Homo sapiens: one gene and its partner. Each later gene encodes a partner of the first gene's protein in a complex. Each region holds a gene or a part of one and is shown on either strand. Other genes may lie near its edges. The genes, in order: TUBGCP3 and NME7.

Region 1 (15,685 bases):
AGTTTGCGACCAGCCTGGACAATACAGCAAGATCCTTCTCAAAAAAAAAATTCTAAGTCTGTCACTAGCTTTGAAAAAAATAATAAATTTTAAAAAAAGGAAAAGTCCTCAGATTGAAGGATCATCAAGTGTTAATCCAGGTAAATTTTTAAGTTCCACACCTAGACACATTATTGCAAAATTTCAGAACATGCAGGATTTTTTAAAATTCTAAAAGCTACCAGACACATCTTCAAAGGAGTAAGAAATGGATTAACATCAGACTTCTCATCAATAATGAAAGAATACCTTCAAAGTGGGCAGAGGAAAAACACTTCAGACCAGAATATCTATATCTGACTGATGATCCAAGAGTTCAGGAATAGAAGCGTAAGAGAAATAAAGACATTTTCAGACTATTAAGTAATTATTTAGATCAGCAAATCCTGTTGATTCTATTTCTAAAAGCATATCCCAAATATGATCACTCCACAGCTACCATCCCATTACAGGAAGTCTCCTGAGGAGCTGCTCACTTGCTTCCACCTTTGCCCCCTTAGAGTGAATTATCCACCCAGCAGTCAAAGTGATCCTCTTAAAATATAAATATTATCATCACTCTGCTCACACACCCATCACACTCACAACAGAACCCAACCTCCTGGCCCCAGCCCAGGGAGCCGGCCCCTTGCTCCCCACATTGCACTCCTGCTATTCCTGGAACACACCAAGCTCACCTCCAGCTCGGCACCCAGCTCTCTCTTCTCCACATCCTCTAAGGACTCACACCCCCCCATCTTTCTGTCCCTATTCTAGCTAAAGCAGACACAAGCGCACTGTGTCAGCAAGGATCCAGTGAATGCCTGCATAGTGGGGAAAGGAACAAAATGAAATCTAAAATGTTTTGTGGGGTCACAGGGTCGGGGTAGTTTTTTTCTCCTTATATTTTTCCACTTTCTGAATTTTTACACTGCGTATATATTAATTTTACAAATATTAAAAGTATCATTGAAAAGTTTCCTTTAAAAGTTGTGTCACTATTTAAGAATTTTTTTTTTCCCAGACAAGGTCTCACTCTGTCGCCCAGGCTGGAGTGCAGTGGTAAGATCTCGGCTCCCTGCAACCTCTGCCTCCTGGGCTCAAGTGATTCCCCCACCTCAGCCTCCCAAGTAGCTGGGACTACAGGTATGTGTCACCACATCCAGCTAATTTTTATATTTTCTGTACAGACAGGGTCTTACCATGTTGCCCAGGCTGGTCTCGAACTCCTGGGATCAAGCAATCCTCCCGCCTTGGCCTCCCAAAGTGCTGGGATTACAGGTGTGAGCCACCGTACCCAGCCAGTAAAAATTATTTTTAGGTTACCATTTTCACACTCAAGTACATCACATAAATATCCCCAATCCAAATGTTTTATATACTTTTCAACTTTCTCATACCAAAAAGTTAGGAACTCTTCAATGCCAGAAACACTCTCCTCTTCACCTCCTCACTTTCTCTGCACCTCAGATGGATGTCATCATTTCACCCCCACTTACCTCTTCAGCCACACCTGAGTCTCCCTGTCCTCTTACCAACCAAATTTCCAGTTTATCCTTCTTGCTGATTATAAAATATTTTTAAAAATCCAACTGTTACCTCTTAAACCAAATCTACTTAATCTGTGCTTCAGAGGGAAAAGCACAGAATCCAGACTACTAAAGAAATTAGACATAGCAATCATTCCTTGTTTAGTGAACCTGCAATCAAAGAATAAGCTGGGAAAAAATCAAGCAATGTCCACTACACGCTTCTGGTTTAAATACTCCCAAAATACTGTTCAGTGTTTAAAGTATAACTAAACTCAATCAGTAATTCAATGAATAACTCCTAAATACTTACTACAGGCCAAACACGTCAGGCCCTAACAATATGATGTACAGTGGTTAATGAGACAGACGTAGAACATAACAAATGTGGCACATAAGTACCCAAGGCAGACTGTGATAAGAGCGTCAAAGAAAATGAGGGCACTATGACAGCTCATGACCAGGAGGACCTCGTGAAGTAGATGCTGAGGGAAGGCCTTGCAGGAAACACCGTTAGCCTGGCAGCCAAGGCTGCCACGTGAGGAGCCCAGGGACCAGAGAGGGGAACCCACAGGGAAGGGCGGCACTGGACACTGCTGCTGCAGGGAGGCCGTGCCACAGGGCTCTAAATGCCACTCAGTCAGTCACTCCATCGAGAGCCCCAGGTGACAAGGTCCAGATGTAGATCTCTGATGATTCTGCTTAATGCAAGAGTGAAAAATAGAGTACTCCATTTTTTTGGCCACAAATCACCTAAGGAGAGGTCTAGTTCTCCCACCTCTAATCTGCTCTGGGTGTGTGAGGGGTGGGCAGTTCTCAGGTTCCTGGAAGGGGAGTGAACACTCCTCTGATGATCCTCTGAAATTATTTCAATGAATGCAAGGGCACACTGCCTGACCAGAGAGCAGTGCTGCTGAGTTGTACACTCTAAACACAAGAGCGGATAGAGGTGAGAAGCCATCCCACAAGCTGGGCCATGACTTATTGTCTCTATCGAGCACACAGAGAAATTCGCCATCAAATTCAACACTTAAAAGCCGGGGTGAATTAATTCAAAATATCAAGCTGTAGAATCAGAACTTGGGTTCCAACCTTGGCCCCGCAATTTACTAGCTCGATGATAGTGAGCAAACTACTTAATCTCTCAAAGTCTCAGTTTTCTCATCTAGAAAATGAGGTTCACCATAATTCTACCACAGTATAAGCACAACATCCAGCATATTTTAAGTTTTATATAAATGTTAGCTATTCGTATTGTTATTAACCTGAAAATATTAAATACATACTATATCTGCTACAGCCATTAGAATCACAACTCAAAAAATGCACCCAATTTTTAACCTTGAGCAAGATAATTTGGTCTTCATCTTGAAGACTACAAATAGAGAACAAATTAAGCCTTCAACAGATTCGATGAGATTGGTTTTCTAGAAAGGACCCTCTGACTGAAGAGGAGAAGAGGAACTAGAGGAGATACAAAGCCAAGGCAAGACCCTCAGCTGGAATTGCGTTCAGTCCCAAATGTGAAGGCTCCAGAGACACCTGGATGTGGGCCCAAGAGCTTTTAAACAAAAAAGTTGCCCTTTGTATCCCCAAAAGATTCTATATACACTCAGGTTAAAGATGACAACTGAACTTCAAGATGCACAAAAATAAATTCGACTCAAGTGAATACAGAAACTCCACAGTTGTGTGTTTCTCAAGATTCAAAAAACAACTGCGGAAAAGTTGAACTGTTTGGGGAGACCCAAGTTTCTGCCTTCCTGTTTCTTGTCGACAGCGTGGACTATATGTTCCACACTTCTGCTTTTCTGAAGGATGGGGGAGGGGTCAGGAGGGCGTTGGGAGTAAGCCACAGTGCTTAGTAGAGGAACAGAGCACATACACTAGCCACCCTTGACTCCAGATGCAAGTCAGAGTAACTTATCACGCATTTTAATGTTTCGGATGCCAAGCTCCAACAGACACCTACAGGATCAGAAGCCCTAGAGATGAAGCCCACAATATTAATTCTGAGTAAGTCCCACATTTAGAGAGTTTAAAATGAAAAGGCATGAAGTTAGATACCATAAAAAGTCCTGTTCTCAACCACTGGCCACCAGCTCCCCTTCCCACAGGCAATCAACGTTATCAGGTTCTTGTGAAATCACAGGCGATTCCAATGCATGGCTCTAGTTGAAAAGCAATGCTCTAAAACAACAAAAACATTACTCTAGATGCGTGGTTCTCAAACTCTTTGGTCTCAGGGCTTCTTTACACTATTACGATTGAGAACTCCAAAAAGCTTTTGTTTATGTAGGTTATATCTATCCACAGTTACCATATTAGAAATTTAAGCCAAAACAATTTTTAAATTTTAACTTATTGAAAAATAGTAAATCCATCAAGTACAACTTGAAACAAAGCCTGAAACTCTGAAGTTTTAATACACATCTAATGTATATCTTAATATACATGTAATACACATTGATCTTCCCAAGAATGTAATTATATAACCAAAGGAAGATCACATGGTATTTGGAACTTCATCAAAAGCTCTTTACCATTTTGGAAAATCATGAAACCAATAGCAACACCACTTGTGGTACTGAATCACCAAAACAATAATCCTTTATCTTCTGATAGTGGCTTGTAGGACACTCATAGAGGTCTTGCATATTATGGCAATCATCTTCGAATATGCTGTGTACTGTAGTCATACCTGAACATTTATGATGAAATACTTATCTAATATAAATTCCTCTTTATGTATTCTTTACCTCATAGTTAGAAAAAGGATTACAAAGTAGCTATGAAAAGAAGTGTTACCTCTGACAGATTTGAACATTAACATCAAGCACACTGTTTCCAATGATAAGAATAATTACGCAAAGACATAATAAATAAATGTGCTCCCAGGAGGGGCAGGGATATGGAGACAGGATTTGACTATGACTGGCTGGCAGTATGTGTTTCAAGCAAATTCACAGATGTTATAAGTTGGAAAAGGTGGTAAATCATGGTCATGCTAACTTTGTAAAACTGTCAAGCACCATTATATGTAGGTGCTTTGCTTCTGAAGGTCCCTTGAAGTCAACTGTATAATTTTTTAAAAGATACCTTATAAAAATGTGATTCATATGAAATTCTCATTAAAAGTAACAAGTACCTATTATGCCTTGATTTCATAGTACTAAAAAAAATGTATTACAAAAGCATAAGGCCAATTGTAATATGTCATCAAAGAATAAGGTAATTAATCAAATATTCTATGGAGTTACCAGATAAAATGCTCACTAATCAAATTTTTAACACCAAATATTGTAAAGGTAGTAATTAATATTGCTCCTTTGCTCACTAAGGTATAACAAATGAAAGAACAAGGTAAGCTACTATTTATAAATTCTTCAGTAAATAGCAGCATAATTTAAAATTATATCATAAATGCTTGACAATCCTAGCTATCTAGAACATAGCAAAAAGAGCATCACCTTTAATGGACTTCATGACATAATTTATTCAGAGAGGGCCGGGCGCAGTGGCTCGTGCCTGTAATCCCAGCACTTTGGGAGGCCAAGCGGCAGGGGGGTGGGGTGCAGATCACTTGAGGTCAGGAGTTGGAGACCAGCCTGGCCACATGGTGAAACCCCATCTCTACTAAAAACACAAAAATTAGCCAGGAGTGCTGGCATACACCTGTAATCCCAACTACTTGGGGGGCTGATGCAGGAGAATCACTTGAAGGAGGCAGAGGTTGCAGTGAGCCCAGATCATGCCACTGCACTCCAGCCTAGGTGACAGAGCAAGACTCCATCTCAAATAAATAAATAAATAAATTATTTATTCAGAGAGGACCCTGTCAGGATCTGAGAGCCCACTTTTAGACACAGTTCTAAATGGGAAGATAGTAGGATACAGAATTTTGCTGAAAAGAAGCTTTTCAGTCTCTTAGAAGGGACAAAACTTTTATATCAAAGAATCTTCAATGTAAAAAAAAAAAAGTTTTTGGCTGGGCGCGGTGGCTCACACCTCTAATCCCAGCACTTCGGGAGGCCGAGGCGGGTGCATCACGAGGTCAGGAGATCGAAACCATCCTGGCTAACACAGTGAAACCCCGTCTCTACTAAAAATACAAAAAATGAGCCAGGCGTGGTGGCGGGCGCCTGTAGTCCCAGCTACTCGGGAGGCTGAGGCAGGAGAATGGCATGAACCCGGAAGGTAGAGCTTGGCAGTGAGCCGAGATCACACCACTGCACTCCAGCCTGGGCGACCAGAGTGAGACTCTGTCTCAAAAAAAAAAAAAAGTTCTTAGGTTGAGAAATATCATTCTAGCTCATGATGAATGAATTTCAAAATCCAATTATAACAATGGGAATGTATGAATGTGTGGTTTATCCCTAGAAAAAAAAACTCTGGAACCACTGGTATAAGGAAAACACTGACATTAAGGTGGGTAAGTCCTAACAATCTTAGTTTTATCTGATTCCCCCTATGACGAGGAACATGAAACATGTGAAAGGAAACTCAGTCTGCTAATGACAAAAACAAACGATGGCAGGCCATGCTCATACCTCAAGACCTTTCCACTGGTTCTCTCTACTCAGAACCTTCCCCAGATGTTCAAATGGCCCTCCCTTACTCCATTCAGGTCTCTTTAAATATCTCAGAGGCTTTCCCTCACCTGCCTCTTCCCTCTCTATTCCTTTACCCTACTTTTTCGCCACAGTACTTATTGCTAATTAACATGGCTGGTTTATCATCTGTCTCTTCCAGTAGAGTGTCTGTCAGATCTGTGGGAGGAATGACTTGTGCATCTGCATCACCAGCACTTAGCACAGTTCCCGGGGGGAACTTTGAGGACGGGGTTGTCCTCAAAGATTTCTTAGATAAATAAAGTGATAGAATCAAACTTTACAAGATGCAGCAAGAACTGTGTGAAGTCACTCATTTAATAGCGACACAAAATTATTCATGATTGCCCCAAGATTATCATAGAACATCCAATGAATTATGTACAGTAATTGTCATGAAGCATGAAAGGTCAAAATGCATTCTCAGTACTTTAAATGTAACTTTGAAGTCTTCCTTCAAAAATTGAGTAACTTCTTTTCCACATTTTGGTGCTTAAGATGTAACTCAGTTGCTTCCATTACTCAGAAAATTCCCTCATGGTGCATCCTCACTCTCTGCCCCACCAACCTGGCCAAAACAAGGAGCAAGAAATGGCATCCTGTACCATTTCTTTCAAAGTACCTCGACTACAAAATGGTTTTACCTACCGTATAGGATTAGTTTTGCTTATTAGTAACAATATTCGCCATGTGAACTTTCCCAGAATAGTTTTATATCAAATCCAACCTTCAACCCTTTAAACAGTAGGAAAACACGGCAGTTACAGTCGTTAACACCCTCTTCCCATAATACTCAAGCCTGTTAAACTTTCCTAACGAAAAGGGACGATGATGTGACACTCCAGCACCCCGCATCCACCTCCGCGGCGCAGCCGCTCTCTCCACCCCACAGGATGAACCCAAAGGCGCGCAGAGGCGCCCTCCCACGGCGCGTGACACCAGAGAAGGGGGATAAATTGGCGAGCTGGCATTCCTCCCGTCCTCACTGACGGACCCGCGAGCGGAGTGAGCGGTGACTCAGCCCGCTCCGGCTCGGCTCCGCCCTCCCGCCTCCCGCCCCGGCGTTCTCGCCCCGGCCTTGGCCTCTCCACTCCCTCCGCCCCGGTCCTGGCCCCCAGCCCTCCGCTGTCCTCCCCGGCTCCCTGACCCTCGAACCCCAGCCCTCCGCTCCCTCGTCCGGGCCCCACGTCCTCGGCCCGTCCCCCAGCCCTCTGCCCGGCCCTGCATCCTCGTTCCTCCAGCCCCGGAACGTATTAGGGCTGCACGCGCAGGGAGCAGCCCCCGGGACGGGTCTGCGGGCTTCGCGTCGCCCGGCCACTCTACCTTCGCTCCTGCCCAGGATCCTGCAGCACAGGTTCTGCAGCAGAACGTTCGGCGACTTCTGGTCCGGGGTCGCCATCCTCGCCCGGAGCCGTGCACGGTGGTCCGGGCAGAGCCGCCACTGCCGCCGCACGCGCAGGGACCGCGGCCCGCGCCCTTCCTGCGCCCCGCAAGCTCCCTGCTCCTGACAGGCTAAGGCGCGGGCGCCGCCGGCCACCAGGGCGCCATTTTAACGGAACCCGCCGAAAGCGCGGGCGCTTCCCACAATGCCCCGCTTCTTCCCTGCGCCGCGGCCGCGCGTGCGGCTGCCTAAGCGTTCCCGGCCCTGTCTGGTGCATTCCCCCTGCTGCTGCCCGGTCGGCCGAGAAAGTTCCGGGCGACAGGTGGCCCGAGGCCCTCGAGCTGCGCGGACAGAGCGGCCCCGGAGTCGCGAGCGTGACGGGCTTGCTTGGAGGGCACTTGGTGGCCGGTAGCACCATAAAGGCCATAATTTGGTGTGTGGGTGTGGGGGTGTGTGTGTTAACGGCATTGGTTTGATTCACACTTCTGATGAAAGAAGCCTGTTTAAAAAAGAAAAGAAAAAAGAAGCCTGTTTAAAGGGTGCAGGGTGTTACGATTGTTAACGTGCAGTGGGCAGTTCACCTGCTACGCTATCCAACAGGCGCCCTGCTCAGGCCCGACCTCGCACTGCCGCGCGGGCCGGTCCCCCCCGGCCCGGGTAACTGGGACGTCCTGGGAAAATAAATTAATCACGTACGGAGTGAGAGAACAGGAAACCTGCCGAGAAAAAGATCGATAAGCAGACAATTACACCAAGCCAACTTCAGTGCAATCGTTAAAGCTTACACATGGGTGCACGCTTGGGAGCCGTGAGCTACCATGTTAAAAGGCCAACTTCCTAAGGAAAAATGATGGAAAGAGATCCCGAGATCCTATGAAATGGAAGAGGGAGGACAACCCAGCTATCCCAACATCCCAGCTGAGGCCAGCCACACACGTGACTGTCTGCAAAGCCCGTCGGGCCTGGGTCCAGCTCAGGTTGCAGAATTGTTGGCAAGTAAAACGTTTGTTGTCGTTCTGACTCAAAAACATGGAGACAAAGCAGACTTGTAGGGTATTACAGTCAACAACTAGACCCTACAGCTAAAGGACTGTCTCCTTGCATGATGCAACAACCATCACAGCTCTGCAAGAGCAACCAAACCACCAAGGATGCGATCACCCCTCACTGCCTTCGATACGCATTCTGTGGAAACGCTTCTAAACTTGCATCACACTCAACACGATCAGTTAGTAACTGGCTTCTCATGAAGTTATTCTCTCAGCCGCATACTACAATGTCCAGATGTCATCTAAATCCTGCCACCCTCTCCCCCACCTTCAGCTGAAACGCTGCATGACTGCATCATCTTACCTGACCAGCTCTCTCCTAGGACAGACATGCAAGAACCCCCCTCACTAACGCTGATGTTATTTGGTTTACAGATGGCTCTTACTTAAAGATGCAGCTGGAAGGTATTACACTGGTTATGCCATAGCGTCTTTGCCCAAAGAAATAGAAAGTGCTTGTCTTCCAGGAGCAATCATCTCAACAAGCAAAGTTAATAGCATTAATTAGAGCCTGTCAGTTGGCAAAAGGAATAACTGCTAATCTTTATACCAATAGCAGGTATGCTTATAGAGTAGCTCATAACTTTGGAATGCTATGGAGACAAAGGATTTTTAACCTTTTCTAGTCAGCCCACAAAAAAATGGGTGCCTTGTTTCAGAATTATGGCAAGCCATACTATTGCCAAAATCATTAGCCATTATCAAGATTCCAGGCCATTCAAAGACACTCAAAAAAGCAAGATAAGCCAGTTAGCAGGTAGTATAGCAAACAGGGTGGCCATAAACATATCTGAACAAAAAGATCAAACCATTTTGGCCTTTAAGGAAGTTAGATTTTTATGTAAAATTAGCTCAATCTAAATCTCCAAAAACAGGACGAGAAAATTGGGAAACAAAAGTGGCACATGCGCTTCTGAGACTGATGTACGGTTTGACCAAATGTTCTACTCATACTTCCAACTAAGTTACAACCATCTTTCTTTTTTTTTTTTTCTTTTTCAGATGGAGTCTCGCTCTGTTGCCCAGGCTGGAGTGCAATGGCGTGAACTCCACCTCCTGGGTTCACGCAATTCTCCTGCCTCAGCCTCTTGACTAGCTGGGACTACAGGCACCCGCCACCATGCCGGGCTAATTTTTTGTATTTTTAGTAGAGACGGGGTTACACTCTGTTAGCCAGAATGGTCTCGATCTCCTGACCTCGTGATGTGCCCGCCTCGGCCTCCCAAAGTGCTGGGATTACAGGCGTGAGCCACCGCGCCCGGTCCAGCCATCTTTCTTAACGTGCATACACGATGTGACTCACTGGAGCCCTGATAAGATTATTGATTTCTTGAGGAGAACAATGTTGTCGGAAACCTTCTCCAACTGTTGCTCACGGGTATACAGTCAGGGCTGTCTTCCCAGAATATAATGCAAGGAAACCTTGACCCAGTTCTCCATGTCATTTTCCTTTACCAGAAGGCCCTTTCGAGGTATGGCAACTAGATTTTTTCAGCTACCACCATCACAAAGATACAGGCACATCCTAGTGATGGTTTGTGTATTTTCTCATGGGTAGAAGCATTTCCATGCAGAAGAGCAGCAGCCTTGGCGGTAAGTAAAATTATCTTAGAGAAAATTATTCCGATTTGGGGAGTTCCTCAAGAACTTTATAGCAACAGAGGCACTCATTTCACTGCACAAATAATCCAGTTAGTATGCAAAATCTGGCCCATTTTCCAGCATTTCCATTGTGCCTATCACCCCAGTCATCTGGGTTAGTAGAATGCACAAGCAGAATAATCAAAACTCATTTGGCAAAATTAACTGAAGTTTTAAAACTCCCTTGACTGGAAGCTCTTTCTTGTTTTTGCTTCACCTAAGATCAGCCCTTATGGGTAAACACCAACTGTCTTCATCTGAAATTATAACGGACAGACCTATGAAATTGTCTCCAGGAAATTGTAAATCGATGATATTAAAAAGGGACAGGTTGTATTATTGCAGCAGCCTCATAAGGCACCTAAGTAAAAACTGTTATTTAGTAAAAGATTCTTTCCACAGTGAGCTCCAAGAAGCAAAAACTCAAGGAACACATACTTCAGCCAGGAGACTTTGTAGGAAACAGCATCCTTTAAAGGACTTTCTCCACCAAGGAGGAAGGAACCTTATCAGGGACTCCTAACCAACCCTTGTGCCACTAAGCTTAAAGGAGTTGATTCCTGGATACCTGCCACCCATGCAAGGAAAGCTGCTTTGTCAATTTGGACTTCATCTCAAATTGGTGATCTAAAACTAAAACTCTCCAGAACCAACAAGGATGAGAAGAAAACAACATGTGAGGCGATCAGCCTTCTCAAGACACCTGACCAGGCCTGTATCTAGACAAACCCTTAATATAATCATCGTCAGTAGATGAGGAAGGTCTTCCTTTACAAGTTCCCACCACACTTCCTTCTTTTTGTCCCTAGTTCTTCTGTTTTGTTGCTACCATCACCAGCCATTGCCCATGAAACAAACATCTTCTTGCAGTAGGCTTGGGCCTGTGCTAGTAAATTACAGGACAACACTCGTTAGGTGTGTGGCCTTGCGCCCCTTTCTGGTGGTTCTGGCCTACCATGGTGGCAGCTCCTCTTCAAGGACAAGAGTAGACAGAATATCAGAAATGTGTCTGTGTTTCTCAGGACAGTCATTGGTGCTTAGCACTAGTATGATGAAGGCAAGTGTGCATCACTGGCCTATGAATGATACTTTACAAAGCAAAAGCCATAGGAAGAGCTTTCCAGTAAAAGTCCACATACCTTAATGCTGGTACTACACCAGCTGAGAGATTAGACCACTCAATATCGGGATGGCATAACACAAACTTGGGATGGTTTCACCTGACTTACCCTCTCTTTGGGTCAACTTAGTTCACGTGCCCCTTTACATTGGGAACAAAAGAATCATATCAAAGATCCCTGGCCCAGGAGCACTGGAGATACGGGATGGAACCCAGAGAACAGTGCATCTACACCATTGTGTTACAGAGTCCTGGCTGGCATGCCACTGAGTGGGCATAGTGACCGGGTGTTTACTGGTTGGCTCCAGATGGAACATCTGGACTCTGTGATAATGACCTATGGCCATGGTTACCCCCAAGGTGGCCAGGACACCATTCTCTGCATTATGCCTGGACATAGGATGGAATAGTTCACAACCGACATAGATAGTAGATAAAACTAGGTAGTCTGAATAATTCAAAGTATGGACTTTGATTCATAATGCTTCAATACTGGTTCTTAAATGTAACAAACAACACACTTTTAATCTGTGCATTGTGAGGTGCTGAGCGAGAGGGGCCGGCTGCCAGGTGCCGGGTGGTGGGTGGGTCAAAGGCCAAACGCAGGTTCCACCAGGCAGGTGTCACTCCCGGCAGGAGTAGAAACCAGAGGCCTCACTGAGAGTGCCAGCCCCCACCCTGGTGTTTCATTTTCCCCCACGGCACTGGGTGAAGGTTAGGTGTGTCTGTGAAGACAGCAGTGAAGGGATACTGTCTCACTGCCCAGAGAGCCCCTAACAAAAGGTTTCTGCCATTCTATGGCCCTGGAGTCAGGGGAAGAGAGAGAGGGAGGCAGCTGAGAGTGGAAAAGTGCTGAATGCAAAGTCAGAGTGGGAAAAATGTCTTCCAGGCCCCCTGAAAAGGAGGCTTTGGCAGAGGTACCTAAGACAGGCCTCAGCCAAGGGACCCATGTGGTCTCGGAAGGGAGGTGCCTGGGTTGGGCACAGGGGATACCCAGGGCACCCAGGTCCTTCCCCGCAACAGCCTTCAGACACGGCAGTGCACTGGCCACACACCATGAGGCAGCCAGGTGGGGCCTTTGTCATCACCCGTGGTCAGACCTGAAAGATCCCACAGGGCATTTGGGCTGCAGCCAGCCAACTTTCCAGGCAGCATGTTGCATTCCAACTCTGTTTCAATAAAACTAGTTTCGAAAAAGAAAGAAACATTTCAAAATATTGACGGGATGCTGCTAAGTTTTGATCGTTGCATTAGAAAGAAAGAGATTAAAGGAATAGTTTAAGCTTCCGCACCAGGAATCTAGAAAAGGAAAACCAAATCAAGCTCAAACTAAGTAGAAGGAAGGGGAGTGAGATCAGAATGGATGCTGGGCGCGGTAGCTCACACCTGTAATCCCAGCACTTTGGGAGGCCAAAGTGGGTGGATCACCTGAGGTCAGGAGTTTGTAACAAGGCTGGCCAACATGGTAAAACCCCATCTCTACAAAAATACAAAAATTAGCTGGGCGTAGTTGTACGCACCTGTAATCCCAGCTGCTCAGGTGGCTGAGGCAAGAGAATCACTTGAACCCAGGAAGCAGAGGTTGCAGTGAGCCACGATGACACCACTGCTCTCCAGCCTGGGGGACAGAGAGAGAGACTTTATCTAAATTCCAAAACTTTGGGAGGCCAAGGGCAGATCACCTGAGGTCAGGAGTTTGAGACCAGCCTATCCAACATGGTGAAACTCCATCTCTACTAAAAACACAAAAATTAGCCAGGCATGCTGCCGCGTGCCTGCAATCCCAGCTACTCGGGAAGCTGAGACAGAAGAATCCTTTGAAACTAGTAGGCGGAGATTGCAGTGAGCTGACACCATGCCACTGCACTCCAGCCTGGGTGACAGAGCAAGACTCCATCTCAAAAAAAAGAAAAAAAAAGATCCGAATGGCAAACAGTGACCTAGAAAACAGTAAGACAAATACGGAAAACAGAAGAAACTAAAAGAAGTTGATTCTAGGAAAACAAACTGATCAGATTTGCTAGACTGGACAAGCCAAAAGGAAAAGAAAAAAACAGAAATATGCCAAATCAGGAATAAAAGAAATAACATACAAGGGTCCATGGTGAAACTAAAAATATCACAAAGAAATTTTAAAATGTTTAAAAAAATAGATAATTTAGATAAAATGGACAAATTCCTAAAGAGACATAAATTATGAGCACTGACCAACAATGAATAGAAAATTTGAACAGATGTATAAGTAACCAAGTTGAATTATAGTTAACTACATGCCCACAAAGAAAAGATCTGAGCCAAATGGCTTCATTGGTGAATTTTCTCAAATGCTTAAGAAACAAATGATATCAATCTTACAGGAAATAGAGACAAAATAACACTTCCCAAATATTTTACAAGGCCAGTATTAACCTGATACCAAAGCCAGGCAAACACATCATAAGAAAACTATAAAATGAGAAAGGTACAACTTTTTAACAAAGTGATTGCAGATTAAATCCAGCAACATGACCAAGTGGGGTTTATCTGAGGAATGCAAGGTTGGGCTAACATCTGAAAGCCAATTAATGTCATAACTCCTCAATAGAATAAAAGAAAAAATCCATATGACCTTCTAATAGCCACAGAAAAAGCATTTGACAAAACCAACCCTTTCATAATAAAAACTCCCAACCTAAGACTACAAAGAAACTTTCACAACCTGATAAAGGTCATCTATAAAATAAACCTGCAGCTATCTAAGTTTCAGAGAATCATCTTTTTGTCTTATTTGTTTCCTCTGTTATGTCTCTGCTTTTATTTCATTAATCTCTTCATTATCTCCTTCATTCTGTTTGCTTTGGGTTTATTTGCTCTTCTATTTCTAGATTCTTGAGGTGAACACTTAGGTTATTGTTTGAGACTTTTCCTCTTTTCTAATGTAAACATTTAGTGCTATAAATTTCTGTCTAAGCACTGCTTTGCTGAGCTTTTGAATTTTGATATGTTGTATTTTCATGTTTATTCTGTTGAGTGTACTTTTACGTATTTCTCTTGATCCTTATTCTTTGACCCATGGATAATGAAAAGTGTGTTATTTCTTTTTCATGTGTTTGGAGATTTTCCTGTTATTTTGTTGTTGATTTCTAGTGGGGGTAAGAGAAGACAGACTAAGATTTTAATTCTTTTAAATATGTTGAGGTTTGTTTGATAGTCAGAAGTGGTATATCTTTTTATATGTTTTGTGGGCACCTGAAAAGAATATATATTCTGCTGTTGTTGATCGCCATGTTCTCCAAATACCCATTAGATCCAGTTGATTGTTCATAAGTTGTTCTCTGTCCTTGTGAATTTTCTGTTTAGTTGTTCTATCAATTGGCGGGAAAGGAGAGTAGGGTCTCTAACAATAATTGTGGATTGCTGTTTCTCTTTTGAGCTCTATCAATTAATACATTTTTTTTTTTTTGAGACAGAGTCTCGCTCTGTCACCCAGGCTGGAGTGCAGTGGTGCAATCTCAGCTCACTGCAAGCTCCACCTCCCGGGTTCACACCATTCTCCTGCCTCAGCCTCCCCAGTAGCTGGGACTACAGGCACCCGCCACCACACCCAGCTAATTTTTTTGTATTGTTAGTAGAGACGGGGTTTCACCATGTTAGCCAGGATGGTCTTGATCTCCTGACCTCGTGATCCACCCGTCTCGGCCTCCCAAAGTGCTGGGATTACAGGCATGAGCCACCCTGCCCAGCCAATTAATACATTTTGCAGCTCTGTCGTTTAGTGTATATATGTTTAAAATTGCTATGCCATCTTAGCAAATTGACCTTTATCTCATTATATAATTGTCTTGGCTCTGAAGTCTACTTTATCTGATATTAATAGGACTGCCTCTTTTGATTGTTTGCATGGTATATATATTTTTCTATTTTTTTCCCCTTTCATTCTACTATGCGATTGTGATTGAAGGATAGACAGCATATAGTTGGGCCATTTTTTTTAATGCTGCCTTCTAATCTCTATCTTCTAGTTGGTATATTTAGACCATTTACATTTGATGTAATTTGATATGTAAGGCTTGAGTCTGCTATTATATTTTTTGTTTTCTATTCATTCTCTGTTTTCCATTTCTCTCTTTTTTGTGCTTTCCTGTGAATTATTTGAACAATTTTTTTTAGAATTCCAGTTTGATTTGTCCATAATGTTTCCCAGTGCATCTTTTTTGAGGAGTTTCTTTAGGTGCTACTTTACATGTACATAACTTATTTCTGTCTACTGCTGTTGATATTTTATGGTGTGAATGAACGCAATCTCCTTTTATGTCCCTTTACATTCCCCTGTTTATGGTATAAATATTTCCTCTACA
Region 2 (15,150 bases), on another chromosome or scaffold:
TCTTGGCTCTACAAAAAATACAAAAATTAGCCAGGTGTGGTAATGTGCACCTGTAGTCCCAGTTACTCAGGAGGCTGAGGTAGGAGAATCGCTTAAACCCAGGAGGTGGAGGTTGCAGTGAGCAGAGATCAAAGCACTGCACTCCAGCCTGGGCAACAGAGCGAGACTCTGTCTCAAAAAAAAAATAAAATAAAAGAAACTTGAAAGAAATTTTCTTTCAAGAAATTGAAATTATTTCTTTCAAGAAATAATATTGTATGAGCAATTTTCTGTGAGATAATTGTGAAAGAAGTTATAACAATCGCTATATCCTTCTCACCTTTAATCTGAATGTTAATTTAGCCACAAAGATAGCAATAAGACAACATCTTGAAAGTATCTTATCCACAGCAAAGTCACACTTTCTTAAGCATAGATGAAATCCAAACTACTATAGTCGTTACTTTTAAATCTCATATTGGGCAAATGCTTACTTGATATAGTTACGAATTTGATACAGTCATGCTCTTGATGAAGTTTAAAAGATAGCTCTGCTATTAAATTTATTTGCATTAACTCTTTCTTATTGCTTATTGATTTTTTATTTTTATGTATATGGTAGGAATATTAACTAGCTTGTAGGGAGTCCTGGCCATATGCCAAGCATTGGTCTAAGTGTTTTATATGCATTAATTGACGACTTCATTTACAGATGAGTAACTGAAACATAGAAGAGTTAAGCAACTTCCCCAGGGCCACACAGCTAGAACATAACAGAGCACAGACTTGAACCCAGGCAATCTGGGTCCAGAATTTATACTCTCTAACCTCACTGCCTTTCTGTGTGATCTTAAATGTAACAAGTATTATTTCTTTAGAGTTCATGATAGGATGGGGAGTGAGACTAGAAAAACTAAGCATGAGGGAAGATATAATAGGAAATAGAGTCAGAATATTTGGCCTCCCTCAAAAGTAATTAGAATGATTAGATATTTACTTAGGTTTTATCCTTATTAACTGATATTTTTATTCACAAACTTGTCCAACTCAGTTTTAGATTAAAAATATAAAGTTATTTATTCCTTAAAAAATTCTTAACTATCAAGCTGCTGTATTGTCAGCAGCAAGAGGCCTTTGAGTTCTTGAGGGGGATGAGAGAAGGTCACGTGCCCCTGGAATTCCAAAGGATTATTCTGATCTCACTGTGATTTCACTGTGCTTACCCATGAGAGGGGCATAGTCAGTATTTGTTGAATGACCAAGTACATAATTCTCATCTCCCATTCTAATAATAATGTGTCATATGAGGAACAAAATCACAAGTACTTTCTCCTCTTTGTCCCCATTGTCCTTATACATACTTCTGTTAACATACTTGGTGTATTGTTAAATAATTATTTGTTTCTGTGTAGTTCACCCCTTAGTGTGAACTCCTTGAGGGCAGGGGCCATGTCTTACCTTTGTATCCCAAGAACCTAGCCTCTGTTTATCAGTAACTTAGTTGATTATTGACAAATGGCTGTGGAAGGAAGGGAAGGAGTAAGGCAGACCTAGAGCTGATATCCTTGTGTATTTATTTTACATTTATTAAAAGGTCATTGGGTTTAATCATTTGAGGCTTTTGAAATATATTCAAAGATGATATTTCTTGGATTTGATATGACTCCTCTGATTTAACCCCTGGGAAGAGGTCACTGGGATTTAAAGAATATGTATGTTATAGTCTGTCCCTTAGGTACACCACCTGATTTTATTGCTAAATTATGTCATACTCCAAAGGGCTTTGGCTGTACTTTTGGTGAGTTTATCTGTAATTATTGATAAATACATTCATTTTTGCTTAATTTATACAGAATGCCTGTGTGAATCACCCCAAATCACTGTAGCATTTAAATTTCCATCTCATGGTATAGCTATGGACTAGGAAGTCTGCCTTGGAAATTAGGGCTTATTCTTTGAAAAACCACAGATGTATTTATTATTTGAGACAAATGTGTAGTATGGGATCTTTTCTCCCTCCGATAATATTAAATGCTGTGTTCTCACTTGTAAGTGGGAGCCAAACAATGGTTACACATGGACATACATAGGGAAATAATAGACACTGGGGACTCTAAAAGCGGGGAGAGTGAGAAGAGGATGAAGATTGAAAAATTGCCTATTGAGTACAATCTTCACTATTATGGTTACAGGTATGCTAGAAGCCCAAACCTCACCATCACACAATATATCTATGTAACAGACCTACACATGTACCCTCTGAATCAATAAAAATAATATGAAATGCTGTATCTCTCCACTTTTTACTTTCTTCTTCAGGCCCACTATACTCTCATATTATACCACATTTAGCTCACATCTCTTGTGGTATGCACTGTGCACTCACAATTGTGCTGGATGCTGTTTTTGTTTCTAGGGGTTATAACAATTCGATTTTCCTCCATAATTCTATTTCTTGTTTTTAAATTCGGGTCAACATACATTGTGAATTCCATCTTTGTTGTAAGCACACCCTTATTTACTGCTTTTACTGACCTTGTCATCTTACAGAATAGTCTACTCTATCAGTGAGTGATATCTCCCATTCTGTCATTACCACTATGGTCTGAGCAAGAGTAGGGGCTGGAAAGAGGCTACAATGAGGCTATCTATGGATTTTCAGTGGGTAATTTTAAAAACTGTGCCTCCATGGAAGCTTCTGATAATGCTTCTGTCCTCACCTCCACCCCGCCTCCCACTGTGCTTCTATAACTGGCCTTATGACAACAAATGAATCTGGCATAAGAGAGAAGAGCACCAGAGTAAGTGAAACAGAATTGAGTGAATTAGCCGTCTCGTTGGATTCTACCCAATCACACTGTGAAAGTCCATTATGCATTATGCTTATATTCCATTGTGTAATGAATGGTAATTCTTCTAATGATAAATACTGGTCCCCTTTGGTACCAACCTTAGAGTTAGAAATAGCTTAATCTGTTGAGTAAATGAATAAAAACCGCAAGTTGAAAACAGCAAAAATAATTTCTTTGCTTGGAATATCAGTGTACATATCTTTCCGTGCAAAGTTCTCCACTTTTCTCATTACCCATTAACTTGTTTGTTACTCTACAATCTCCATCTGAGAGCTAAAATCTGCTGCTTACTATTCACAAGGCAGAGAGAATTATAAAACGTTATACAATAGTAGCACACAGCATAGCTTTGAATCTTTCCATAAAGTCATCATAATGGTACGTTTTCTGAGTATTGCCTTCAGTTTGTTTTAATAAAGAATTCATTGTTCTAGTGTTTACATGATGATTTTCTGTAACAGAAACTGATACTGACATTGATACCTTAGGCTAATGCAATTTTTAGTCATTTTACTGGGGTAAAAATAACTTTGTTGTATAATAAACAAATTGCTGAAGCAATCCTCCTGCTTCAGCTTCCAGTAATTGGGATGGCAGGTGCACGCCACAGTGCCTGGCTTCTTCTCACATTGATAATTTTGGTCCTTCTCAGGTTAACATACATTTATTGAAGGCCTGTTTGTGCCATTCACTGTTCTAGGCACTACGGCTAAATAAGACACACTCCTCATTCTCAAAGAATTTAACATTCTCCAGGAAAAATTGTTATCGAAATTGACATCAGAAAGTAAATGCTAGGAGATTGATCCTTCCTGGGTTTCATGAAAGCCCCTATCAGGAAGTAAATGCTAGGAGGTTGATCCTTATTGGGTTTCAGCACAAGAATCAGATGAGCCTCCTGTTAGATATGAAATCTGCTCCAAGTATTGGAGGATATGTTAAAAAAAACAAAACATAGAATAGTATTCCAGGCTGAAGAAATAGTGTGTATGTTGTATAATATATTCTCTTGTAATGGCCTTTGTGGATAATTACACATTGCAAGTATTCAATTTTATTTGCTAGTATTCCAGTTTGTCTTCTCATTTGAGGGATATTATGTATCCATTCTCTTAGCTCTTTACCTTGGTTTTTTATTTTTGTCTTTGTTTCCTGAGATGGAGTCTCACTATGTTGCCCAGGCTACAGTGTAGTAGCTACTCACAGGAGCAATCCCTAATTCCATGTAGGGAAACTACATGGAATTTGATATAGCATAGCTTAAAAAGACATTAGAGAATTGCAGATGAGCATGGAAAGGTAGCTAAGGCTCAAGTCATATAATTATTTTATGCCAAATTTAGGAGTTTGAAATTTATTCATAGGGTTAGTCCATGGACTGACTGGCTGAAATTGTTTGCAAAATGTTGTGGATGTATTCATTCTGGGGGGGAAATGGTCCGTAGCTTATTAGATCTCAAAGTTGTCCACAATAAAAAAAAATTGTTGAGAATATTTGCAGTGAAAAGTTTAAGTAAATGCCCATACTGTTCACTAATTAGAGTGAAGTAAGGCATAACCATATCCATGTTTCATATTACAAGAAATGTGATGTACAGAGCTGTCAGTGCAATGAATGGAAGTTGCCAGGAAGACTTCTGTAGCCAAAACTAAACCGTAAATTCATTCATTGAACATTTCACTGAACTTTTCCTATACACCAGAAATTGGTAAGCACTGAGGAGACAGTAATGAACAAGAGCTCCTATTCAGACACACATTCCATTCAGGGCTCATAGTCTAATGAGGAAGGCAGACATTAATCAGATAATCACAAAAGGAAATGGACAAGTATAAATTCTGATTATTGCTGTGTAGTGAAAGACAGGATGAGTTGTAATCGGGGAACCTGGTGTAGATGGGGGATTAAGAAAGGTTTCCTTTAGCAAATGGCATTTGAACTGAGGCCTGAAATGAGTGTCAGCTGAGGAAAAAGGTAGTTGACTCCAGGCCGAGAAAATAGCACTTGCTAAAGCCCTTATGCGGGGAATTGGTTGGTGTGTTTTAGAAAAGGAAAGAAGAAATATAAAATGCAAAAAAAAAAAAAAAAAAGCCTGAGGTGACACTGGAGAAATAGAGATTGGGCCATGCAGGGCTTTGTGGGCTATTTTAAGAATATGGATCTTTATCCTCAAAACATCAGGAGGCAACCCTTGAGGGGAATGGGCGTTGACATAATCAGGTTTATAGTTTTTAAGAGGTCTCTCCAGTTACCATGTGGAAAATGGACTGAAGGGGGTCAGGTTGGGATAGATTTGTTAAATAATAGTATAACAACTGAAAATACATTGATACCATGTACTTTAATTTATGGGTTGTTATAAATTCATAAAATGTGTCTAGGCATTAGTTTCTCCATGTGGAAAATGATGAGGCTGAACTTGTAATTCTCAAAGCTTGGACTCCCCTACAAATGAGCTGAATAATTGATCCTCTGAGACCTGGAGGCAGCAGCTCCAATCCTTAACCACTTCCTGTGCCGGCTCCAGGATGCCATGCGAGAATGAGCATTTTCTAGGTGCACCATGAGGTGACAAAGATTGAGAGGCCCTCCTCTAAACCCCTTTCCTGCACTAACATTCCATGATTCTAGGTTTTGAGGAAATCAAATTCTAATCCGACACCTTGGTTTTACCATTGAGGAATGTGTTGCCCAAAGAAGGAAAATGGCTCACCTAAAATTGCATGGCTTAGTGTATAGAACATTACTCTCCTAACTAGTAATCCTGGGTTTTTCTAGTTTGCCATACTGTCTCTGTATCCTTTGTAAGCAGTATAATGAATTATTATAATTATCAAATTGCAGGTGCTTCTTTTTCTTTCCTCTATTTATGAACAGAAGTACAGTTTATTCTTTTTTGATTACCAGTTAAGAATTTATTGCTGTAAGTCATCAAGCATCGTTTTACTAAAACTTGAAGACTAGAAATGGAGAAATTAATTCCTAGGAAAACAACACATCTTATCTTATTCTGGCTTAGCTGAAAATATTGCAAGACTAGCATTTCTATTTCAAAATCAGCCCAAAGGCTGTGAGCATACAGAAGTGATGAATAGAAAGATGTTAGCTGAGCTCTTAATGACTTTTACTTGATTTGAACTTGAGTTCAAAGGTAAATCAAAAGTTTAAAGTTGAACTTGAATCTTACTATGCCATATAGGCTTTCCTTAGCCTTCTGGAAAATCTAAAGTATAAGGGAGGTCCAGGAGTATAGTGATTCTGGGCACAGACTCTGGAGTCAGGTGGTCTGAGTTCAAATCCCCAGCTTCTCCTCCTACCAACTTCATGACTTAGGAAAAATTACCTTTCTCAGACTCATTTTATCTACTTGAAGAGTAGAAATAATGACATTTCACAGTAAAAATTAAATGAAGCAATATATGAAGTAATTTTCTCTTAAATCTTAAATTACCTCAGCATATGCTTTCACAATTTCTTTCCAATTTTAAGTGACAAAGTCCATCCCAGCTATTCACTTCATTATCTCATGAATTCTGATTATGTATTCTCTCAGCTTTTATCCAATCTAAGAGCTTTTTCACTTTTCTCATCTGTCCTTATAAAAAAAAAGGCATTCCATCTTCTAAAAAATTTTTATTTCTATTTTCTAACTCTATTATTTTTGTCTTGGAGCTTTTCTAACTGAAATGTGTATGAAGTATAGCAATAGGAACTTCCCAAGAAATAAAATATTCTGTGGTTTGTTTTTCTTGTAAAGAGTACTGTAATTCCTTGGGTTTAATTGACAACATCCTTTATGAGGACACTCAGCATATCAGCATTGATGGCCTCGTAGACAGCAGTCTTGGCCCAAGTATTCAGGGAATGACGAGGACATACTCCAAGATCCTTTTCCCGAATCACTGTTTATTGTTTATAAAACTCATCTTGTAAGCCTGCTTTATTTCCTTATCAATACCCAAGGTAATCCTGTTGAAGTTTACTCTGCTTTTCTGCCCATATTCCCCACTTCATCTTTTGAGGCCTACCTGTCTCCTTGGCACATTATCCATGTTAAGTGCCTCCAAGGTACTGTGGATACTAGTAAATGCCAAATTAAGTGAGGGGTTTTATTCTTTCCCCAGATCACATATAATGATATCAGATGGGCTTGGTTTGGGCTCTGATTTCGGAGGCACCTACTTTGACTAACTATCTAGGACAGTAGTTTTCTTTTTTTTTCTTCATCCAGAAACTTTATTGTAAATCATTTGTCAACAAGATCTGCATTTCTAATTTCAGTTTGTCATTCCTCTGAGGCACAGAGAAAGGAAAAGATGAGATTAGGGTTAATGTTTATTGAGCACTATGTATAAAGGATCTTATTTAGTCCTTATAAACAATACTAGGGCAGTGGCTTTCAACCCCAGTGGACATCAGAAGTGTCTGTGAAGCTCTTTGAAAATGTGGACGTCTAGGACCTACCCAAGACCTAATGAATCAGACTCTCCAGGGTGGGGGTGTAAGCATCTACTTTTTGGTTCTTTAAAGATCCATAGGGTGATTGTGATGTACAACCAAGTTGAAAATCACCAATCTTGAGAACTGGTCTTTATATCTACAATTTCTTTTATTTGAAATCTTTTTTTTTTTTTTTTAAGGATAGACTGTTCCCTGTCAAAATCTTTTCTTCTCTGGGAGCCACAAAATGAATTTCTAAGAGGAAGTGTCAAGGTCACCTGAGTTTTTCCCCTCTGCTTGCTTGGCATTCATAACTGAGAAAACCCATCCCTGAAGCTTTACTGTAGCTGATTTGTAGCAGAGCCCATCCTGGGCTACTAGTTTCAGAGTGGGAACATGGGGCCATATGTCCTTTTTAAAAAAGTATTATTTGTATAATGTGCTACAACTTTATAAATTCACCCAGAAACTTACATGCCCACTAAATCCAATGAGGTAGGTTTTATTATCTTCAATTTTTAGATTAGGAGACAGGCTCAGAGAGTCTAAATGATTTGCCTAAGAGCACTAGGAAATAGTGGCTAGAATAAAACTCAATTCTTCCAACTCCAAATCTAGTACTCTTTCTGTTCTTTCTACTGATTAATATTTTTATCATTCCATTTTGAAATAATTTCAGACTTATAGAAAAGTTTAAAAAAATACTTTCCACAAGCCCTTTACCTATATTTGCCAAATGTTAATATTTTACCATGTTAATCATCCTTTCTTCTGTCTTTCTGTACATATGAATTTAATTATTTATAATATTTAACAGTATGTTATAGATGTAATTCCCCTTTATCTCTCAATACTTCAGTGTATATTTCCTAAAAACACTGATATTATCTACAGTCACCACAGAAAGTGATTGCGAATCAAGAAGTTAACATTAATACGATACTATTATCAAGGTACAGACCTTCATTTTTTACCCACAAATGTCTTCTGTGGCAAAAGAAGAAAAATAGTTTCTGGTTCAGGATCCAGTCAGGGATCACATATTGCATTTGGTTCTCACGTCTGTTTACTATCTTAGTTTTCAAAGTTTTCTTAGTCTGCCTCTGCTGTTCATGACTTGAATAATTATGTATGCTATCATCTGATAAGCTGGAATTGACAGTTCTGGCTGTCAGCACTTGATGGAGTTATTCAGAGATACTTGGGTTCAGTGACATACAGCAGGATGGGCCATAACATTAGGAGAATATTTGGAAACCAATAATAGTGATATTTATTATGCAATATTTATGCTGGACACTATTTTAAATGTCTTCCATATAATTCCTCATTTAAACTTCACAACAAACCTACATAGTAGGTATTGTTACATTATAGATGTGGAATCTGAGGAACAAAGAAGTTAAGTAACTTGCTCAAGGTTACCTGGCCAGGAGATGGCAGGGCTAGGAGTCAAATTCCAACAGCCAGGCTACATCCCTAGTGTGAGCTCTGAACCAGCACAGGCTGAACCAGAGACATTTAACAAAGTGATATGTCTTTAGGCAAATTATTAGCTCAAAAAACTTGAGTCTCATGAACTGAAAATGGGACTAATAATACCAATGTCATAAAGGTGGTTGTAAGGATTACACACAATAATCTGTTAAAGCATTTGGTATGTAGCAAGAACTTCATTTTTTAAGAGTAAAATTTAAAATATAAATATGGAAAAATTGACCGATAAGCATATCTGAAGAAGATACTGTTATGACTAAGAAGATACTGTTATGACTAAGAAGTTACTGTTATGACTAAGTTCACACTGAGATGAGAAAACTCTCAGAGAATACCTTTTTAATCATTACAGGTAGGGAGGAGAAGGGAACAGAAGCAACAAACATCTGTTCATATTTTGAGAGACTGGGGAGATACCAGTTACAACCAAAACCATCTTCGAGGCAAAAGGGGCTAGATAATGATGAGTCATGAAACACAATTTTATGATGAATTTATGGAAAGTTGTAGCCTTTAGTTATATTAGCAAAGAAGGTAAATATTTTCCATAAAGAGAAAAGTCAGCACCACTCTACTCTGGGCTGAGATATAATTACCTTCCAGCTTTTAAAAGGGAATTTTCTCCTTAGTGGGTGGCAGTCAGAGGAATCAAGAGGTTTTTATCTTTTGAGTTTTTAATTTCATATATACATATCTATATATATTTTAGAGAGTGGGTCTTGCTCTGTCACCCAGGCTGGAGTGCACTGGCATGATCTTAGCTCATTACATCCTCGACTTCCCAGGCTCAAGTGATCCCCTCACCTCAGCCTCCCAAGCGGCTGGGACTACAGGTGTGCACCACCACACCCAGCTAATTTTTTTTGTTGTTAATTTTTTTGTAGAGACAGAGTCTTTCTATGTTGCCCAGGCTAGTTTCGAACTCCTGGGCTCAAGTGATCCTCCTGCCTTGGCCTCCCAAAATGCTGGGATTACAGGTGTGAGCCACTGCACCTGGCCTTGAGGTTTTTAAAAGAGAACTCTGAAGACATTGGGTTTCCAGAATTAGAAAAATGTATAGTCATTTTAATGTGACATTTTCATTTAGTCTTTTTTTTATTTTTATTTATTTATTTTTTTGAGGAGTCTCGCCCTGTCACCCAGGTTGGAGTGCAGTGGCACAATCTCAGCTCACTGCAACCTCCACCCCCGGGGTTCAAGCAATTCTCCTGCCTCAGCCTCCCTAGTAGCTGGGATTACAAGCATGCAGTACCACGCACAGCTAATTTTTGTATTTTTAGTAGAAACGAGGTTTCGCCATGTTGGCCAGGCTGGTCTCAAACTCCTGACCTCAGGTGATCCACCCGCCTAGGCCTCCCAAAGTGCTGGGATTACAGGCATGAGCCACTGCACCCGGCTCATTTAGTCTTAAAACATTTCAAATATGTCAACTAAACCTACGGAGAAGATAAGCATATCTGAAGAAGACACTGTTATGATTAAGTTCAACTTAATTTTTTAATTAGACCATAAATAGATTTGTGGGGGGTACATCTGCAGCCCAAGGGCTTTTGGGGTTCTATAGCTACAACAATAGGCAAGGATGGATTTTTCATCTCCTTTCTATCAAGGTTTGAATGTTTCCTCTGAGTCTTTCCACCCAGAGAACCCTAGACTTCTTTCAGTTACCACTCCTTTCCTCACTATTGACCACTTCTGAGCCCCATATTTTGGGAGCTGAAAAGTAAGTAGTGCCTTGGAGAGGGAAGACAAAAAGGGAAAGGGAGCCCAGCAAAGGTTCATTCAAGGCTCACATGTGCATCCCCTACTGGTAGCTGCCTCTTGCCATCCCCACAGCATAAGCCCTCCCCTCCTCACCCCTGCCCAAGGCTGCAGAGCGCCATCACAGGGCCTCTGTTCCATGCCCGCTGAGTCTGCCAGCTCACACCTTCCATAATCTGCCTCACCCTGCACCTTCCCCAACCCGCCCAACTCTCAACCATCGATCTGTTCATTGCTTATTTTAAAAGCAGCCTTTTCAACCACATTTTTCATTCAGTCATTAGGACAACCATGCTAAAGCAACCCTACAGTAGACGCCCTTGGCTTTAAGCAGAACTGGTGCAGAATAAAAATGTCAGGCCTTTTTTTCAAAATTCATTAAGAATTTCAAGACAGCAGCAGCAGAGCATTAAACCAAACACAAGGCTCTTCTAGGCATGTGGCCCCGTGCACAGACTGCAGGCCCATGCAGCCAGCCTTGGCTGTAAGGGGCCCAAGTGAGTTGAAAGTTGGTCATCTACTAAATACACTGATATATTTAAAACTCAGTATCATATTATTGGAACACTAACAAAATTGCACTTCAATCAAACTGACTAGATTTTATCCAAAAATCTAGTGTAGTGACACAGGCACACATATTTTAATTTGGTGCTGGAATTCCACAACTGTGCGATAGATTCTCTAAGTGTTCAAGCACATCTGTACTCTTATTTAAAAGAAAATATAACTCCATAGGCATTTCTGATACTCAATCAACATTAAAAACCATTGGAAAATAGATGCCTGCATTCCACCTCTAAAGTGTCTGATACACTAATGAAAGAATAACAAGCTTCACAAAGCTATTGGGAAGGAAATGAGATTTATATGTGAAATTAGACTATGCACTATAAAGTAGTAAATAAATGTAAGCTATTGTTCTTATTTAAATTTAATGGTGATAAAGACAGAACGAGCCTTCAACTTAATCTTATAGGTAGTCAAGTATCATTATCCGTTGGATATGTTGAATATGTTACATGAATGGCAGAAGAAGGAGGGGAAGGAAGTGGTATCGATGAGAATAGTTTAGACCATGTAAGACGTTTAGAAGTACAAAAGTAAAAATTTCATGAGGACCTAGTGTGTTTGGACACTCCCCTGTGACCCCCTACCTCTACCCCACCCCAACATTTCATTGTCAGTGCTGGGTACATAGCAGGTGGCTCAGGAGAAATTTGCAAATGAAAGAAAAGAAAGGCCTGCTCTAGGCAAAGGTTTCAAACGTTTATGGTAGGCATGGACTTCTCCATCTATTATGTTTCATTTTCTGCAGTATAACCTGAGTTGTATTATACTATTATACTATTCTCTTGCTGTCTAGAGGCTCCAAAGCAGACTCATCAGAACCTCCCCAAGGCCTAATCTTTACCTGCTGGTTATTTCAGAACCCCTGCTCCTTATCAAAAGGAAAGGATCCTATGTCCTATTCCTGCAGGATTGTTCCATACTCCTTGAAGCACTCCAAAAGACAGACCAAGTAATGACTATATCGGGCACTGGCTGTGCCCGATATATGTGGCTGGCTGTTTTAAATTAACCCGTGTCACCTCCTGCCTGGTCTGTATAGGGTCAACACTAAGGGGGAATGTATGTGTCTCCTTGGAAAAGATAGCCCTAGAGGCCGCCTATGATTTTATGAAATCCAAGTTTTGTAAAGGCTTTGTGATAAAGCTAGCTACAGATAGTATGCTTTACTACAATATGGGCATTCTCTTAGGGTCTAGGATGCCTTTGTGACTAAATGAAAGAGCTGAATTCTGTAGTCAATAAGAGTCAACACCTTAGTAAGATACTTAATCCCTCAGAAAGGACTGATGCTGAAAGTCCCTCAGAGAAAAATAGAGAATTAAAGCATGAACCAAGATACCCGCCTTGTTTCACCCCTTTGTTTCACATGACTAGGATATGGGTGCTCATTGGAACCATCGGTTGGAAGAATAACAGGCTTATCTATTTCTTGATCATCTTTCTCAGTGTAGAGCCCAGGGGACTACAGATAACATGTCTGGTTAACAGTAGCCCCCTCTTAAAGAAAAAAGGAGAAAGTCATGTTTTCTCAGTTGAATTTGAAACCAAGATCACTTTATTCACTCAATTAAAACTGCTATTGTCTGTTCCTTGGATAGTTTCCCTCTGTATTCATAAGGTCCCTTAGTCCTAGATTTTCAAGGTAATGTTATTTGGTTCTCCTCTGTGAGCCAAATATACACAGATATCAAAGTGTTACTAATCCTTTAAGAAGCCAGGAGTTTAAGCTATTACTGAGCTTTGAAAGGTTCTCATAACGGAACTTTTGTTTCTGATCACTGATAATGTTTTTAATTTGGAGTTGGAGCAGTTCCCTCTGGTATTAGGTGCAGCTGGAGCAGACAGGGCATGCTATTGTTCTAAAGTAGATAGGTTCTGGGTAATGCCGTTTTTGGTTGTTTTTTTTGTTTTTGTTTTTCAAGACAGGGTCTCACTCTGTTGCCCAGGCTTACCGAAGCCTTGAAGACTTGAACCTCCTGGACTCAAGCTGTCCTACCACCCCAGACGTCCAAGTAGCTGAGATCACAGGCGTGTACCACCATGCTCGGCTATTTTTTTTTTTTTTTTTTTTTTTTTTTGTAGAGACGGGGGGATCTCCTTATGTTGTCTAGGCTGATCTTGAACTCCTGGGCTCAAGTGATCCTCCAACCTCAGACTCTTAAAGTGTTAGGATACAGGCATGAGCCACTGTGCCTGGCCTAAAATGCTATACTGTCAAGCAGAGTCCTAAATTTTAGCCAACCATTTATCACTTCCATGCTTTTTATCATATTTACCACCTGAAATTTTACTATTTTTCTTTAAATCCATTCAGTGCTATACTTGAACAAATTTATTTTACTGCTATAAATGGAAAACTACTTGTTTTAAACTATTCTTAATTGAAGGTAATAAAATACAATGAAAACCAGTTTAAAAATCCTAGCTAGGTAACATCTTATGGCAAAGCTTCTGACACCAAGGCCTGTCCCTCTTTGTTTGCAAGGGAAATTAACCAGGGTTGAGGACATACTAACTCGGTATTTCAGTTTTCCTTCCGAGAATATGAAGGGTTGAAAAGAGAATCCTTTTTCTCTCTTCAGTATTTAAATGCTTTTCATTCCAAGTAGTCAGCCTATCTTTGAAAAACTCAATCCCTTTATATTGTGTAAGGAATTAAGTATTTGACAGGACTTGTGTGAAAACCCATTTCTTGAATGTAAGAACACCCCAAGGGAGATAGATGGCACTGTCCCTACACCCATGAAATATGTCATCTACTGAGGGTCAGAATAAACTGATTAAAAAGAAATAATAAATGTATTGAAGAGTCTGAGAAATATGCAAATGGTTAACACTAGAATATGAGCAGCAGAGGAAAAAAGATGGAGTTTTGTCTGTTTTGTTCACTGATAGATCTCTCACTAGCTGTTAGAAGAATGCTTGGCATATGGTAGGTATCTGTTGAGTCTAAGAACACAAACCACATTCCCCAGTCTCCTAGTGGTGATATAACACTAAAGATCAGGAGTGGGAAATAGGTTGGCACAATCTGGAGAAATTAAGAGAAGCAAGATTTGGAGAGAATCTTGGAGAAAGTTACAGACACACACAATGGCTTAGAACAGAAAGTACACAATACATACGAAAACAGGTTAAGTCTCACCAAGGTCGTGACCTTATAGCAGCCTTAAAAATGCAAAATACCCTCCAGTTTGAATGAATGCTCCCCTTTCCTCAGACCTAAAGCCCCATTCCCTTATTCACAAGCATCACAAATTTAAATATCACATACACCTTACAAAATGAGCTGATGTTTCTGCAAGACAAACTTCTATTTCCATAAATGTGGGTTACTTTGAGAAACTCAGTTTCATGTAGGTATGTTAGTTTGAGGATTTTTCTGTGTCATTTCAACTACTGAAGTCTCCTAAAGACTTCAACTATTAAAGTTAAGCAGTTGTGCCATTTTTCATAGTTCCCTTGCTATTTTTTTGTTAAGTGGAGTCATTGTTCCTCTGGTACTAATTTCGCATCACACAATTTGTTGCTCTAGAAATAGCAAAACGAGAAATAGATTACTGTGATTATAAATATGAAGCAGTAGGTGGAAACTGAAGCTGTTTCTGGCATTTCTCACCAAAACGGCCATGGCCTCCAGATCTGTCTCTCTGTAAGAGGGCAGCACCCCTGAAGACACAGTGCCACGTCAAGGATGTGTGTGAGCTCCTCTGCCTGCACAGGCTTTGCGAAAGGTTTCCGTTTCAGAAATACAATGCCCTGATTTTAGTGTGGGCATTTCCCATGTTAGTTAAGTGATACTAAATCTTTAATAATTATAGCTGGAAAATGTTTTTTGGAAAGCTTTTTTATCTTCTTTCACACTAAGGCTAATTTTTAAATACAGCTAAATAAGGACTTAGGCCAATCCCTGAACCAAAAAGCAAGGTATGAACCTTAATTTACTGAACCACAAACCTAACCTCATTTTTTAAAAACTGAAGTGCTAACAACTTTTTTTTTTAACACATATGTCTAGTGAAGCAATAGCAGGAACCAACACTTCAT

Evidence for each region.
Region 2: TUBGCP3 (region 1) and NME7 share a complex: the UniProt entries of both Homo sapiens proteins name them as parts of the gamma-tubulin ring complex.

Annotation. Positions count from the first base shown.
Region 1 is NC_000013.11:112,580,425-112,596,109, forward strand, and holds the start of TUBGCP3 (gamma-tubulin complex component 3), read right to left. Parts: upstream 7,730-15,685; 5' UTR 7,557-7,729; coding exon 7,481-7,556; intron 6,998-7,480; exon of another isoform or gene 6,806-6,997; intron 3,738-6,805; exon of another isoform or gene 3,615-3,737; intron 1-3,614. UniProt on the Homo sapiens protein: Component of the gamma-tubulin ring complex (gTuRC) which mediates microtubule nucleation.
Region 2 is NC_000001.11:169,133,046-169,148,195, reverse strand, and holds part of NME7 (nucleoside diphosphate kinase homolog 7), read left to right. Parts: intron 1-15,150. UniProt on the Homo sapiens protein: Possesses an intrinsic kinase activity. Displays 3'-5' exonuclease activity with a preference for single-stranded DNA. Does not seem to have nucleoside diphosphate kinase activity.